2 separate regions of the Homo sapiens genome follow, and region 1 is linked to region 2. The links come from fine-mapping of genetic effects on gene expression. A gene starts in region 2. The other region holds a variant in brackets. All regions are shown on one strand. Distances are between the middles of the regions.

Region 1 (8,326 bases), 32 kb after region 2:
TACTGCAGCTCCCTTTAGTGGCCCTTAGGATAAGACCCCATGGTCTGGATTCCCTCCCTGTGAGCAGGACCTAACATCCCAACTCTGAATTCCCCTCCAGGAAGTCATCAACCACAAAGGTGTAAGAAAGACCAGGCCCAGAACAGTGGCTCATGCCTGTAATTCCAGTGCTTTAGGAAGCTGACGTGGGAGGATTGCTTGAGGTCAGGAGGTTGAGACCAGCCTGGGCAACATAGCAAGACCCTATCTCTCCAAAAATAAAAATGTAAAAGTTAGCTAGGGCCGGGTGCGGTGGCTCAGGCCTGTAATCCCAGCACTTTGGGAGGCCAAGGCGGGCGGATCATGAGGTCAGGAGTTCGAGACCAGCCTGGCCAACATGGTGAAAACCCGTCTCTACTAAAAATACAAAAATTAGCCAGGTGTGGTGGCACGTGCCTGTTAATCCCAGCTACTTAGGAGGCTGAGGCAGGAGAATCACTTGAACCTCGGAGGCGGAGGTTGCAGTGAGCCAAGATCACCCCACTGCACTCTAGCCTGGACAACAGAGCGAGACTCTGTCTCAAAAAAAAAAAAAAAAAAAAAAACAACTTAGCTAAGGCATGGTGATGCACAACTGGAGTCCCAGCTACTCCAAAGGCTAAGGTGGGAGGATCACCTGAGCCCAGGTGTGTAAGGCTGCAATGAGCCATGATCATGCCACTGTACTCCACTATGGGCGACCTTGTCTCTAAAGAAAAAAACACCACAGAGCCGGTCACTGCCCTGGTGAATACGTTGGTGCAAGACTGCCCTTGGTAACAGCAGACCAGGCCACTGGCAGGGGAGGGCCAACAGGCGATGGTGCTCACAGCTGCCCGCTTCCTTAGAAAAAAAGTCTCCTGACACAGCCGAAACCCAGAGAGGGAATACTAGCTTCAACACCAAGGTATCAGCCCTGTTTTGAGGCACCCAAGTCACCACAGCCTTCGGCGAACCCCAGGAAGAGACACTTCTCTTACACACACACACACACAAATCATGAAAGCATATTTCCTTATGTTTCATTTGACGACCCAACTTAATAAATAGTCCTATCCTTTGGGAACACCTTATAGTACCACAGCTTTCACACAGGTCCTGGGGTCTGACGCTGGCTTTGAATACCAGTCATTTGAATCCCCACCACTTATTAGATGAGTGATCTAAGCCTCAGTTTCCTCATCAGTAAAATGGGGATAAAGTGTGCCTGCCCCACAGAGGTGTGTGACAACGCATGCAGATGGCTTATCCCAGAGCCAGATGTGTAGCAGCAATAGTCCTTATGTTTTCCTACAGGCCCCAGTCTGCACACTAGTGGTAGTCACTGCAGGGAAGATCGGGCCGGGTGACAGGCAGGGGTGGGGATGAAGGAAGCCCAGCCAGTAGACAGATCACAGATCCCCCTGCAGAATGATTCCAGAGCAGGGCCCCAGGCCTCAGAGAGAGCCACCCTACCCCACAGAGACACTGTTATGGAATGACAATGGGAAGAACAGGGGATCAGGATAGAAGGGTCACCCCACTATCCTACTTGGTAGGGGTGCTTGGAGCTCCCAGGCTAGGGTTGTGAAGCTGCAGGTGCAACAACAGGACAATTTATGTGGCCACCAGCCTCTAAGATGCCCCTCAATGATCCCTACCTCCTGGGATTCGTGCCTTGGTGTAGTTCTCTCCCAAGCTGACCATTGCAGCTAACAGGATATTGCAGAAATGATGGAATGTTACTTCTGAAAGTAGACATAAAAGACACTGTGGCTTCCACCTTGCTCCCTTGGGCAGCTTACTCTGGGAGAAGCCAGTCACCATGTGGGGAGGACACTCAAGCAACCCTGGGGCAGCCCACAGGGCACGGAACTGAGCCCTCCCATCAACAGCCAAACCATCCTGCCAAGCATGTGAGCACACCATCTTGGAAGCAAATCCTCCTGCTCCCTTCAGATGACTGCAGCGCTGGCTGACACTGTGACTGCAACCTCACTAGAGACCCCGAGCCAGAACCACCCAACTAAACTGCTACCAAATTCCCAACCTACAGAAACTGTGAGCATAATAAATGCTGACTGCCATTTTAAGCTACCAGTTTTGGAGTCATTGGTTAGCCAACAATAGGTAACTAAGAGTCAGCATCTCTCTCTCCCCAGAGACTCCCCAGAGTGGAAGTCCCCAGGTAAACACTCCCCCAACCAACCCCTCTCAGGGCCTCAGACCCCGCTGTTCTGAAATGCAGAGCTAGGATGAAGTGGGCAGGGAGCCTGGCCCAGGCCCTACAGCTTATAAGGCCCAAGAGACAGGAACTTCTCCCAACCAGTACATTAGACTCACCTGGAGATTTTTACAAATAACCCCTACCTATACCAGGTCATCTAAATTAGACTCTCTGGGGTGGGGCCCAACCATGTATTTTTTTTTTTTTTTAGGGACCTACATGATGCCAATGTACAGCCAAGGCTCAGGTTCCAGTTGCAGCCTCCTGGCCAGCCCACAGCCACTGAGGTCTGACAGTGCCGGAGAGGAAGAGGCAGAGACAGCCACAAGGCCAGGCAGTGCCCAAGCTCCCTCCACCCTGGGCTTAGGCTTGGGTCTCCCTCCACCCCGCTGCTGCCCAGCTCCCAAAGCCCTCTGCTCTCCAGGCATACAAAGCACCTCAGGCCACACAGATGTCCTTGCCCAACCTTGCTCACACACCGACACACACAGCCGCATCCTCCCCGTCTTTCTCTCTGCATCTCAACACCCTCTGCAGGTCCAACCTCTGCGCTGGGACTGCTCCCTTGGAGGACAGGAGCCAGGAAGCAGGAATGGGGTCTAGCTCTGAGTGATCTTGGAAAGACCGTTTCCTCATCCGCAAAATGGGAATGACCATCACATCTGTTCTGCTCTCTGCTGGGTCCAAGCCTCCTCATCAGAAGTCCTTAGAGAGACCTATATTTGTATGTTTTGTCTCCCCCAAGATGCACCCTTGCCTGGCCCTGCATCAGCCCCTGGAGATTCCGCAGCAATGGATTCAAGAGACAGGGCCCCCTGCCCTGAGGCTCACAGCCAGTGAACTCAAAGGTACAGAAATAAGGATCATGAAGAATTCAAGAGACAATGGGAAGGAAGACCTAATGGAGGGTGGAAGAGGGGGTGGAAATTCCCAGGAGAGAGAAGTGAGCTCCACGCAGGGAAACTGCACGTGCAGAGGCTCAGAGGCACTGCTAACAGTATCATCTCTCAACGTGTGATTCCAACACTGTCCCTTTTCTCTCTCTCCGGGAACTCACCTGGACTGGCTTGGAATCCCCTGGTCCCACACTATGCACTCTCCTGAGCTTCCTCCCATGACTGTGGCAGCCGCCTCACCCCGCCCTGGGAGTTGGGAGTCGGGAGTGGGGAGTGGGGAAGCCTTCCAGCGTCAGGTGGGGAGAACACACCTCCCGCCTCCGCTCAGGGCCTGCCCCAGCCCCACCCGGGCCGCCCTGCGCTTCCTGGGCAAGTCAGCCATGCAGGTTGGCTCCCCGAGGCACCCTGGGGAAGGGCAGGAGGCACACCTGCCAGGAGGCACACGACCTGCCGCCCAAGGCACCAGGAAGGGGGCGGGGCAGGCACAGGCGCTGGAGACACACAGGCCCTGCCACCCGGTGGCTGCCGCCGTGAGTGGGAGTCTGGATGGGCACCGGGCAGGCGGGGGGCACGTTCCCGGCCTAGGGTGGGACCAGTGCTAAGGAGACTGGAGAAAAGCACAGACAGGGTTTGTGAGTGAGCCCTAAGGCAGGGACGGGAGTAGCAGGGGACAGATTTTTCGTTCATTCAAAAAGGTTTCTGGAGGGCTACCTGTGCCAGGCACTGTCCGAGGCACTGGGGATACTGCAACACCCAGACGCCTCCCCTTAAGGATCTGTCAGGTCAGGGAAAAGCAGGGCGGGGAGACAGGAAACTAACTGCTTGCACAGGGGCGTCAGGGAAGGCCTCCTGCCAAGGCAACTCTGCGGCAGAGGAGGTGCAGTGCTGTGTCA[A/T]CCTCCTGGGGACTTGCTGAATGGCAGGATGTGGGGTGAGGGCAAGGGCCACATCAGCATGACCTGGGTGACCAGGCATGACACCGCTGGGACAAACCCAGACCAGTTCTAACTGTGTCAACTGGTCATCATCTTTGCCCTTCACAACAAGCTGATGGGGTCAGAAAAATGACAGAAGCCAAATACCTCAGTGCAGGACTGCAGAGGGGAGGTCAGCCCAGGGGTCTGATTATTAAGCCCAGTTCTCTCCTCCGGGCTATCAGCAGGGTTGGGAGAGCTTCTCCAAGCCGCCTGCCATCACAGGGCCAGGCACACCCCCAAACACAGCCCCCTGCATGAGGCATCACCTGCAGGCACGGCCCTGACGTGAGTCAGTGTCCCCAGCACCACCCAGCACAGAGATCCACCCATTCTGCAGCCTGGGCACTTGACACCTGGGAGGTGTGAGCTGGCAGCTGAGGGGGTGGCTTCCCGGTGGGGCTTCTCCCCTATCCCTGCCAGGAGCCGCAGCCTCACAATTCTGGGGTGAAGGAGAACAGCTCAGTCAGCACTTTCCGCTGACTCTTTCAAAACCACTTACAAGAACTGAGGCCTGTGAGCTCAGCCGGGCGCAGTTCCCCCTCAGCGGCCCCTCGTGACTCTGCACAAAGCCCAACTGTGCTTCAGCTCCAGCCCCGGGGAGGGGGTGGGGTCTCCGGCAAGCCCATCCTGCCTCCTGAGCCACAGGGTCCCACTCTGCCCAGCCTGGGACCTGTGCTTTCTGCCCACAAAGAGACACGACAGCCCCAGTGTCAGAGCTGTCTGAGCCGTGCTGGATCCAGGCAGCCTTCCTCCCTGAAGGTGGAGACGGGCCTTCCTCCACTGTAAACCCTTTTCCAGCACAAATACCTCTCTTATGGTGTCCACACAACGTAATTTATCATAGAGCCAAGGTGGCATGCATGATCACAAAACGAAAAAAGGAAAATATCCAAAGAAAAATCGAGTCACCAGATGAACCTCACAGCAAACCTCTATTTTGCCCCTCCTGTGCCAGGCCCTTTGCTGGGCACTTTCCATTCACTGCATCCTTTAATACTCATAAACTCTCTGCTGCCCATTTTACAGATGAGGAAACAGGCCCCAAGAGGTTCAGAGGCATGACAGACGCCACCTGGATGGAGTGAGGGGCAGGGCAGGGCAACACTGCTCAATCCCTGCTCCGACCTCAGGCCCCCCTACTCAGCCTCCCCAGGGGTGCGGCAGGCCCGAGGACTGCCCTGGCTCAACGATTCTCCCATCTTACTCCTCCCCACATACTGATATGCACACACTGTGCCAGGCACTTGGGGCTGGCAGGAGTCATCTCAAGGCCTGATGGTTCACTCCAGCTTCACTGCCAAAGCCTGGGGCTGCCACCGGGAAGCTACCTGCTTTCTGGCCTGGGCGCTTAGTGGGGTCCCTGCAGGTCACCCTGGTCTCCCTGCCCCATGCAGCTGGATTAGGCTTGCCAGGCACTAAACTAGCCAGGCCTCAGTCCTTCACCCTCGATCTCCTCCTCCATAAATAGGGCCAGGGACAAGTTCTAATTGCATTGGCCAGCACAAAAGAAAATTCAAAAAGCAAGTAACTCATAACTGCCTCTAGACGGTCCTCGATCACTGGCCCGAGACCTTCCCCTCCTGGTGACTTCAGGGTACATTAACTGTGCTCTCCTAAGAAGACCACAGGATTAACCAATAAAGCACTTTCCATAGAATTCAACCATGAAGCACAGTCCCCCACCCACGCGAGGGCTGGAACCAGGTCTCAAAAGCCACTGGGGTTCATTTCAGAATGCACACAGGGGCCATGCGCCCATGATTTCATCCATAAGACCCCTATGAAGTGGAGACGCTGAGTTTGGACATAAACATATTCTTTAGGCCCTTTTGTGGAGTTCAAAGAGAGAATAACTCACTAGCTTTTGAAGCATCAAGAAAGGTCTGTTCTTAAAATCCTATCATCATTGTTATCACTCTATTTTTAGCTGAATACACCTGAGATACAGAGTGCAGTGCCAAGCATTTTGTGTGGAATACCTCAATCCTCACATCAATACCCCCATAGTACAGAGGAGGCAACTGAGATTCAGAGAGGTTCCACAGCCTGCTATCAGCCTGCCTCTAAATTTTACTTAGTAATATATTAAGCCTCAGGCCTTGCTCTTTTTAAAATCTAATGAAGAAGCAGCTGGGCGCAGTGGCTCACACCTGTAATCTCAGCACTTTGGGAGGTCGAAGTGGGCGGATCACTTGAAGTCAGGAGTTTGAGACCAGCCTGGCCAACATAGTGAAACCCCGTCTCCACTAAAAATACCAAAATTAGCCGGGCGTGGTGGCAGGCACCTGTAATCCTAGCTACTTGGGAGGCTAAGGCAGGAGAATCGCTTGAACCCAGGGGGCAGAGGTTGCAGTGAGCCAAGATCGCGCCATTGCACTCCAAGAGTGAAACTCTGTCTCAAAAACAAAAAAAAATCTAATGAAGAAGTCAAGTTCATTATCTTTCCTTGAGTTACTTTTTAAACTCCAAACCTTTTCAGATTAACTCTCAAGGTTTTGCATTGTGTATGATTTTTTTTTTTTAATTTTCCAAAATAAGAGAGAGTAAAAGGTCCCTGTGTGTTTAACATTTAAAGGCATCATTTAAAAATATTTCCTAAGAATATATGCCCCTTGGTGGTGCTGGGTGTCTCCTGCTTGAGTCATCCTAAAATCTAGCCAACTCAGCCTGCAAGGAGTATCACCACCACCCGCCAGGATCAGAGGTGCGCTGGCTGAGCTGGGCTGTCCCGGAGATCTGGTTATGGGTGGGGAGCAGTTGAAGGTATGAGGACAGGCTCTGAGAGAGCCATGGGGTTGACGAAAGGGCATCGAGACAGATGTCCCAGAAACTGAGTGAGACCCATCATGCCTCACTCAGGCCCCCGGGGCTGCATGGGGAAGACAGGACCCATGTGTCTGCCAGGGCCTAGCACAGAGTTGGCAGGGGTGGCTAGATTCTTTGTTCTGTTTTCTAATAAATTGCAACTCACTTCCAAGTTCTTGTTCTTCTGACTTTAAGTCACACCTTCCTTAATGCCGTCCCTCAAGAAGCAGGTGGAGAAGAAGGGAATCTGGACTAAGGGGTGCTGCAATGCCCCCAGCTAGGCCACCATGCTCCACCTGAATCCAGATGCTTTTCCTCATCCTCCAACCTCCCAGCCCCAGATTTAGAGAGCACTGGGCTCCTACATGCTTGAGGAAGAAAGACAAAGGGGCAAAGGAGGACAAGAGAGGGGAGCTAGGGCTGGGTAGGAAAATCCACTGAGCATGCCCCACCAGGGCCTTCGGGTCAGGTCGGAGGGCCAATGTTGCCCCACGCACCACCGTAGCTCCTCCTGGGTATTTAAAATACCACACCCCGACCGGCGCTGTGGCTCACACCTGTCATCCCAGCACTTTGGGAGGCCAAGGCGGGCGGATCACGAGGTCAGGAGATCGAGACCATCCTGGCTAACAAGGTGAAACACCATCTCTACTAAAAATACAAAAAATTAGCCGGGCGTGGTGGCGGGCGCCTGTAGTCCCAGCTACTCGGGAGGCTGAGGCAGGAGAATGGCGTGAACCCGGGAGGCGGAGGTTGCAGTGAGCCGAGATCGCGCCGCTGCACTCCAGCCTGGGCGACAGAGCGAGACTCCAACTCAAAAAAAATAAAAAATAAAAAATACCACAGCCCATCTCCCCCACCTGAGCTGCTGAACAAAGAGCCTCACACCACAGAGGAAAGGAGGTGTGGCAGAGGCGAGGCAGGGTAGCCTCACTGACTGCCCTGAGAGTCTGAGAATGAGGGTCACGTCCGCAACTTGGCCCCTCCCCCAGCTTCATGTCCATGAAGGGGCACAGCACCGCCCCCTCCCACAGCCCACCATCACTCACACCCTGCCTCATGTCTCACTAATGCACTGCTCTGATCACATCACTGCCCTGCTCAAAACCTTCTGTGGGCTGCCACAGCCCAGTGAACGAAGGTAGTCCCTGATGCCTCCTCCCTGCCCGCAGGCCACTTGTCCCCTACACACACCCACCAGGATCCTCTGACTCTCAGACTCAAACCTGTGACTTCTCATTCTGTCCAGATCTCCCCACCTAACTGGCCATTCCTCCAGGAAGCCAGTCCTGCTAGCTACCCACACCCTCTTTCTTCTCCTCTGCAGGCTACTCTGGTCTAACCAGGACCCCAACCTAAGCCTTGTGCCGCTTTCTGCTGGCTCTTGCTTTCTTCCCTCATGTCCACGATGACAGGGCCCTCCCCAG
Region 2 (8,326 bases):
CAGTCTCTACTAAAAATACAAAAATTAGCTGGGCATGGTGGTGGGCACCCATTATCCCAGCTGCTCGGGAGGCTGTGGCAGGAGAATTGCTTGAACCCGGGAGGCAGAGGTTGCAGTGAGCCAAGATTGCACCACTGCAGTCCAGCCTGGGCGACAGAGCAAGACTCCATCTCAAAAAAGAAAAGAAAAAAAAAAAAAGAAATGCACATATATATACACATATACGTATATTCACCAGAAGACTAATACTAGAATGTTGGTAGCTGCACTGTTTTTTGTTTTGTTTTGTTTTTTGTTTTTTTAGACAGAGTCTCCCTCTGTCGCGCAGACTGGAGTGCAGTGGCGTGATCTCTGCTTACTGCGATCTCCGCCTCCAGGGTTCAAGCAATTACTCTGCCTCAGCCTCCTGAGTAGCTGGGACTACAAGCACATGCCACCACACCCAGCTAATTTCTGTATTTTTAGTAGAGACAGGGTTTCACCATATTGGCCAGGCTGGTCTTGAACTCCTGACCTCGTGATCGGCCCACCTCAGCCTCCCAAAGTGCTGGGATTACAGGCATGAGCCACCGCACTCAGCTAGCTACACTGCTTTTAATAGCCAAAAACTTGAAACAATTCCAGTGTCCATCACCAGGAGAAACGATACACAAATCATGGCATATCACACAATGGAATATGATCAAGCAGTAAGCGTGAACAAATGCTTGCTACATGAAACAACATGGATGGACCTCACAGACACAAGCTAAAGAAACCAAATAAAGAAACCAGGTAAGATAAAGAAACCAAATGGGTCATGTTTACATGAAGTACAAAAATGGGCACAAGTTAAACTAAAGCATTAGAAGTCAACATAATGGTAGCCCTTGGGAGGAGAGGGCCTGTGGCAGGAGGAACAAAGGGATACTTCTGTTTCCTGATCTGGGTGCCAGTTACATAGGTAGGTTCAAAATTTATAAAGCTGTACACTCGTGATCCATGTATTTTTATTTATTTATTATTTATTTTTGACACGGAATGGCACAACCTCGGCTCACCGCAACCTCTGCCTCTCGGATTCAATCCATTCTCCTGCCTCAGCCTCCCAAGTAGCTGGGATTACAGGCATGCGCCACCGTGCCTGGCTAATTATTTTTCTATTTAGTAGAGATGGGGTTTTACCATGGGTCAGTCTGTTCTCAAACTCCTGACCTCAGGTGATCCACTCGCCTCCACCTCCCAAAGTGCTGGGATTACAGGCATGAACCACCACACCCAGCCTCGTGATCAGTGTATTATTGTACACAATTATACTTCCAATAAATATGTTTACTAATTTTTTAAATAAGACCTTATTTTGTTCCCATTAGGAAGCCAGATTTAACAGGACACATAAGATATATCCACACCTGTGACTTATTCCTCACACCCACATTACTTAATCCACACACACAACTATTACAAATACAACCCGTAAGTCCAGCTTTCCTTAGGGAACAAACTAAGCACACATTTCTTATTTATTTACTGAACTTGTGTCTTAAAGCATAGTGAAGCTTTTCTTTTTTTAAGCACGTAGCCTGGCATACAAAAGGAAATCATTAAAAGTCTGATAGATGAACAAAAGAATGAACAATTGAACAAAAGTAAATATCTCATCTCGGGGGCCACCAGCCCTCTTTTTTTTTTTTTTTTTTTTTTTTTTTTTTTTTTTTTTTTTGAGGCAGAGTTTCGCTCTTTTTGCCCAGGCTGGAGTGCAATGGCACAATCTCGGCTCACTGCAACCTCCACCTCCCGGGTTCGAGTGATTCTCCTGCCTCTGCCTCCCGAGTAGCTGGGATTACAGGCATGCGCCACCATGCCCGGCTAATTTTGTATTTTTAGTAGAGACGAGGGTTTCCCCATCTTGGTTAGGCTGGCCTCGAACTCCTCAGGTGATCTGCCCGCCTCAGCCTCCCAAAGGGCTGGGATTACAGGCGTGAGCCACCGCGCCCAGCCAACAAGCCCTCTTTATAATGTTAAGAATGAAAAATAAATGATACTGTAGAATATTATAATCTTATTTTATTCACTTATTCAACAGTAATTAAAGGCACTCCCATGATTTTATGTTGTTTGTTTTAATTCAGAAAAGCTCACGGAGAATCCAGGACACACATTTTCTCGGTGCAGCAAGAGGGCTGTGTCCCCATCTGGGCGGCAGATGGCACCAGAGGATGTGGATCAGCCCTTGAGGTTGTCCTTGCTTCCAGAGATCCTGGAAGCCGGGGTACCCCCTACCCTGCCCAGCCACAGTGAGAAGGGGAGCCAGTCCAGCCCTTCCCATGTCTCCATCTGCAGCCTGAAGAACCTCACCAACAACCGCTAGTGCATGACAGTGAGGATGCCGCCAGAGCAAGTGTAGAAAATGCTGCTGTGCAGCTTGACTGAAGGAGAGGCCCAGGAAGGTGGTTCCCGAGGAAGGTGGCTGATGGGAAAGACATGAGCATAGTGAAATGTGGGTAGAAAGGATGAAGTAGAATGATAGGGGACGGAAAGGACGAGGCGACGTCCCTGCACTTGAGGCATGGGAAGCACAGGTGGAGGGTCAGCCTAGGAGAGGCAGAAGCCTTACCTGCCACTGTCTGCAGGGAAGCTCCAAAGGACAGGCATGAAGGCTGGTGAGCTTGTCGATGGGTGAGGAAGTTGCCTCCAGGTGGCTTCTATTTTGTCTATGAAGCAAGAGACCAAATTGCCTATTGACAAATGATGGTGGAGAGGGGTGTCCTCCGGATTTCCACCATTTATCTTGGCTTCTTCAATCCCTTGCTTATTCATTCTGCAAATATTTATTGATAACCTATTATGCTAGGCACTATTTTGGACTCATTGGACGTGCAGAAGTGAACATAGAACTTACATTCGGGGTTGAGGGAAAATAAATAAACACATAAACATCAAAACCAAAAACATCGGGGAAAGAGAAGGACTATGAAGAAACAGGCAGGATGAGAGAGCAGAGAGTGCGGGAGGCTGTGGAAACAAGGTGCTCAAGGAAGTCTTTTGCTCAGGAAGTCTTCCCAAAGAAGTGACATCTGAGTAGAGATCTGAAGGCAGCAGCAAAGAGCCTTGCAAATATCTGGGGTACGGGGGCATTTCAGTTAAGGAGGACAGCCAGGGTAAAGGGAAGGAGAGGGTGGAGAGGAGGTGCGACCCAGGGAGACAGATCACATAGGATGTTGGAAATCACCTTTGATCGTTAGCATGATGGTTGTTACTAAGAACCAGGGAAGTGGCGTGGCTGGATTTATATTTTGAAAGGATCATGCTGCTGCTGTGTAGAGGACAGGCTAAAAGGGACAGTCGTGGAAAAAGGAACCCCACTTAGGAGGCTGTTGCAGCCATACACAGCAGAGATGTGAGGAGCGGTGAAGGAGGCTCAAAGTCATCAGACTCAGGATGTGTTTTGTAGGGAGAGCCAACAAGATTTGCTGATTGCAAATCTGATGATCAGATGTGGAATATGAAAGAAAAAGGAGTTGATGATGGCCCAGGTGTTTGCCCTGGGCCAAATGGTGGTACCACTTACTCAAATGTGGAAGACCAAGGGTAGATTAGATTTAGGAAGAAGCAGAATTTCTGCTTTAAATATGTTAAGTCCCTGGAAAGATTCTGCAGGCAGTGTTGTTATTTGCTTTGCTTCGGCCAGCAGGTGTGGCTCTGTTTTTTTCCAGCAGCAACTGATGGTGGCCCAGCCGTAGCTGTAGACTGAATGCTGATTGGAATTGTGTCAATTGGCTTTAACAAAACAGGGGGTAAGAGAGTTGAGGGTATTAGAAAGAGACCCAGTGAAATGACAGACCAAATGTAAAACTCCAGTCCTGGAACCAATTTTAATTAGTTTGAACTGATCAGAAGTGACAGAAGCCTAACCCAAACTAATTTGAGCAAAAGAGGAGGAACCAATGGCTCAAGTAACAGAAAGCACACCCAAGTAGCTCATAGAAGAGAAGAAAGAGCTTCAAGGCATAATAAAGTGGCCACATGACCTTGAACTGGGGATGAAAGACAGCTGTGTAACCCCATGTGCCCCATGTATGGGAGTGGGATGGTAGCAGATCTAAGACAAAAGGGAGTAGCTGGGACTACAGTGAAATGGAGAGGGAATACCCAATCCAACGCATTGAAATTGCACAAACACAGAGTTTGCAGAAATAAAATGTGCCTAACACTTTGCATTCTCTGAGAGAGATCCAGGCTTTGAACGTTCTGGCAAAATCGGTGTTAAACAATCACCGCTAGAATCATGGGAAGTGAGAAGACTTTTGTACCTACCAGTCTCAAGCTGAACAGTATGAAACAGGGCAGTGAACGACCCCCTTTTTTAATATTAAATACATAACACAAGATTAGATGTCCTGGCTGCCACCTTAGTAGAGCAACAACTCTGCCTGCGTGTTGATGGCTTGATTGTCCTACACAAATAAGGAGTCTCAACAAACAGCCCAGCCAGTCATTATAAAGAATACAGCCTTCTGTAACTCTACCATTAAGTTTGGCAGACCACTAATTAGACAGGCAATTCTCAAGAACTGAACCAGCAGCCTAACTCACTCTGCACCTTGGAGTTACCCTTGAGCTCACCCCCAACAGGACCTAGTAAGTTAAGGTGACTCAAACTAGAGGTGCTTCACTCCTACATTTGTTTGCAGGAGGGGCAGACACTCCAGGCAGCTCCCAAGAAATAGGATATAACATATTACTCACCTGTCATACAGCAGCAAAGGCAGCAAGAGACAGCGCCTGCCAAATACCCCAGGCCCTTGGAGGACACAGTTCTGAGGTTTGCACAAAGCCACAGCTAAATACCTTCACCTGAAGTCCCTGATGCCCACAGCACGAGAAACCATGCAACCAATTCTCCATAGAACCTGGTGCAGGAAAGAACTTTCCTCTCCTGTGAACTTCTACCAGGCAATGGGAATTTTATAGGAATCATTGGCATGGGTGTTGGCCTGAGCGTGCCACATTTGCCACTTCTGATAGAGCCCTTTGGGTTTCAATCTATGCCAAGTCTATTGTGAAACTTCATCACAGCATGAAACATATCCTGTGTTCCTTGTACGTCATACCTCCTCACTTCTGAATGGCTCTTGCTCTTCCTTGCTCATCTGTAGTGAGTGAGTTTGGTTTTTGGAACTGTCAATCATAAATGGTATCCACATTATGCAATTATTGATGTGGAGGCAGCACACTGCAGGAGGTGCCCCCTCTGGCGCCTGTCCCTGCCTGTGTGTCCAAAGGCTCCCCCTCGGCTTCCTCCCCGGGTTGCTCCCTTCCCCACGAGGTCATGTCCTCTCCAAGCCGAGTAGCCTTGCATGGCCTCCCCGAGGTCCTTCCGAGAACCTCCATTTCCTCTGCTGTGGAACAATCCCAACCCCTCTTTCGTGGTTGCAGATGCAGAGAGGATAAGGGGATACAGGCAATGGAGCTGGTAAACAGTGACATCCTATATTAATTTGAGGTCACTGCTTATCACCAGGCAGCCAGTGGGGCCTAAGAGGGCCCCTCCTCCCTTTATCTGCTCTCAGATGTGTCATCTCTGCTGCAAGGAGGAAATTAGCTGGGCCAATATGACCATGTTTTGGAATGGGAGAATGGAGGGAGGCATTCTCAGACTCTTGAAACTTTCTTCCATGTATAACTTGATGCATTTTTACCAACGTGTATGCCCATGCAACCGCCACCCAGATCAAGATGTGGAACACTTCCGTTACCCCAGGAAGTGCCCCCATCCCACTCCTGCCCAGCCGCCACCCCCAGCCCCTCATTTCCAACACAGTAGATTAGTTTTGCAAGTTCTTGAACGTTACATAAAAGAAATCATATAGTACATAGCCTTTTGTCCGGCTTCTTTAACTCAACATAATGTTTTGAGGGTTTTTGTTGTGTTGTTGTTGTTGCTGTTGCTGTTTTGAGATGGAATCTTGCTCTGTTGCTCAGGCTGGAGTGCAGTGGCATGATCACAGCTCACTGCGGACTCAACCTTCTGGGTTCAAGCATTTCTCCCACCTCAGCCTCCCCAGTAGCTGAGACTATAGGCACGCACCACCATGCCCAGCTAATTTCTGTATTTTTTGTGGAGACGGGGTTTCGCCTTGTTGCCCAGGCTGGTCTTGAACTCCTGAGCTCAAGCAATCCACCTGCCTTGGCCTCTCAAAGTGCTGGGGGTACATGAGCCATCATACCCTGCCAACATAACATTTTTGAGGTTAATCCATGTTGTTGCAAATATCCATTCCTTTTATTTATTGCTATATAGTATTCCATTGTGTGAGTGCACTGGAATTCATTCTACTGTTGATGGACATCTGGGCAGCTTCCAGTTTTTTAGCTGTTAGGGTCCATGTTACTGTGGACACATTGGTATATATGTTTGGTGAGCACCTGCACGCCTTTCTCTTGGGTGTATACCCAGGGGTGGGAACGCTGGCAAGCACATGGCCAGTTTTAGCTGACTCCGCCACAGTCCCCCAGTGTGGTCGTACCACACCCACTCTCTCCAGCAATGGCCTTAAGCTTTTTTGGTGGCACCAGCCTCTTCTTTTCATCATACAATAGAACGAGCCTACACCACGCAGTCAGACAGACTTCAGCTCATGTCTCGGCACCTCTGAGCAACCCTGGGCAAGTTACTTAACTTCTCTGAGGTTTCACTTGCCCACAGGAATAAATAAAGCCTGAGTTGGCATCACTGTCAAATCAGTATCACATTCACATGGCATAGTGCCAGGCAATTGGCACTAAGTGAATATTCTCTCCCTCCCTCTTACCCACCCATGAAGCTCCCTGAAGTGCAGTCACCAAGTAAACATTTCCAGACCTTTCACCCCACCATGGAGTCCTTTAAAATTCCTCTGCCTATACACTGAGAACCTATTTATCACTTTCTTCCCCGATACTTATGTGATGGGGCTGCTTGTCTCCATCCCACTGCAGTGGATGGGGAAATCCAACAACTGAGGAGTCAGAAGCAGACAGCAGACTATGAGTCATGGAAGGTAACAGGTAATAGAAGGTGGCTTCCATAAAGTGACCCTGGGCCAGGGAGGAGACAGACATGCTTTGACCAAAGTAAGGTCCAAATTTACATTGTCTGCTTATGTACCATTACAGAAAGATGTCCAAGACATATTGTGGGTTTTTTTGATTTTTTATTTGTTTTTCTGTTTGTTTTTGAGACAGAGTTTCACTCTTGTTGCCCAGGCTGGAGTTCAATGGCGCGATCTCGGCTCGCTGCAACCTCCACCTCCTGGGTTCAAGCAATTCTCCTGCCTCAGCCTCCCGAGTAGCTGGGATTACAGGTATGCATCACCACACCCGGCTTATTTTTTGTACTTTTAGTAGAGACAGGGTTTCACCATGTTGGCCAGGCTTGTCTTGAACTCCTGACCTCAGGTGATCCACCCGCCTTGGCCTCTCAAGGTGCTGGGACTACAGGTGTGAGCCACCGCGCCCAGCCTACAGGACATATTGTTAACTAAAACAAGCAAAATCAGGACAAGATGAATACTTTGGTGCTTTTGTATAAAAAGGAGGGAGAAGAGTGTTTTTATATTGACTTACATCTAGGAATGGATACCCCTAGGGCTGTGGGAGAGGCAACAGTGACTGGGGACACTGTGAGAGGGAACATTTCAGTGTATTGTATCCACGTGGACAGCTTTTGGGCTTAAACTACATGAACAGATCATCTATTCAGACAATTTTTCATATATAGGCTGGGCATAGTGGCTACGCCTGTAATCCCAACACCTTGGGAGTCCGAGGCGGGTGGATCACCTGAGGTCAGGAGTTTGAGACCAGTCTGGCCAATATAGCAAAACCCCAACTCTATTTAAAATAGAAAAATTAGCTGGGCATGGTGGTTCGTGCCTTAATCCCAGCTACTCGGGAAGCTGAGGCAGGAGAATCGCTTGAGCCTGGGAGGTGGAGGTTGCAGTGAGCCGGGATCATGCCACTGCACTCCAGCCTAAGCAACTGAGTGAAACTCCGTCTCAAAAAAAAAAAAAATTCATATATATATTTAGACATTTTTCAGTTATGCCAGCAGGTGGGTATGAATCCCTTGATATAAGCTCCATGAAGATTTCTGGCAGATCAACCCTGGCAAAGCAAAATGTCTGTGAGGTTTGTGCATGTAGGTGTGTGTGCGTAAGTGGATGCAGGTAAGCATGTGTGTACGTGTGTCTGTGTGTTAGACATCTCCATCACAACCTACCAGCCTGGGCAATATAATGAGACACTCTCTCTACAAAAAAATAAAAATAAAAATTAGCCAGGCATGGTGGCACATGCCTGTAGT

Direction of the effects. Alleles are on the strand shown, and positions count from the first base shown. SD is a standard deviation of normalised expression in the study named.
As copies of A replace T in region 1, the expression in monocytes after Pam3CSK4 of the gene that starts at base 4,885 in region 2 goes down (large effect, 1.1 SD a copy in Quach 2016).

The links. PIP is the estimated chance that this variant, and not a neighbour inherited with it, causes the effect.
Region 1: its variant is the best candidate, but not a certain one, in a credible set for the expression of LINC01433 in monocytes after Pam3CSK4 (Quach 2016, PIP 0.88).

What each region holds. Positions count from the first base shown.
Region 1 is chr20:4,157,308-4,165,633 of GRCh38, reverse strand. All of the region lies in intron 1 of SMOX (spermine oxidase), which reads right to left. LOC124904861 (a long non-coding RNA gene) reads left to right here. Exons shown (of 2, transcript XR_007067504.1): 2 at 2,436-7,071. Among named protein-coding and RNA genes, the nearest start is that of SMOX, 13 kb to the right of the region's middle. RefSeq lists enhancers at 3,937-4,870, 7,497-7,997. The variant A/T (reference allele first, on the strand shown) is at 4,014.
Region 2 is chr20:4,189,649-4,197,974 of GRCh38, reverse strand. LINC01433 (long intergenic non-protein coding RNA 1433) reads right to left here and starts at 4,885. Exons shown (of 3, transcript NR_033917.1): 1 at 4,729-4,885; 2 at 2,597-2,693; 3 at 2,022-2,449. RefSeq lists a silencer at 2,558-2,739.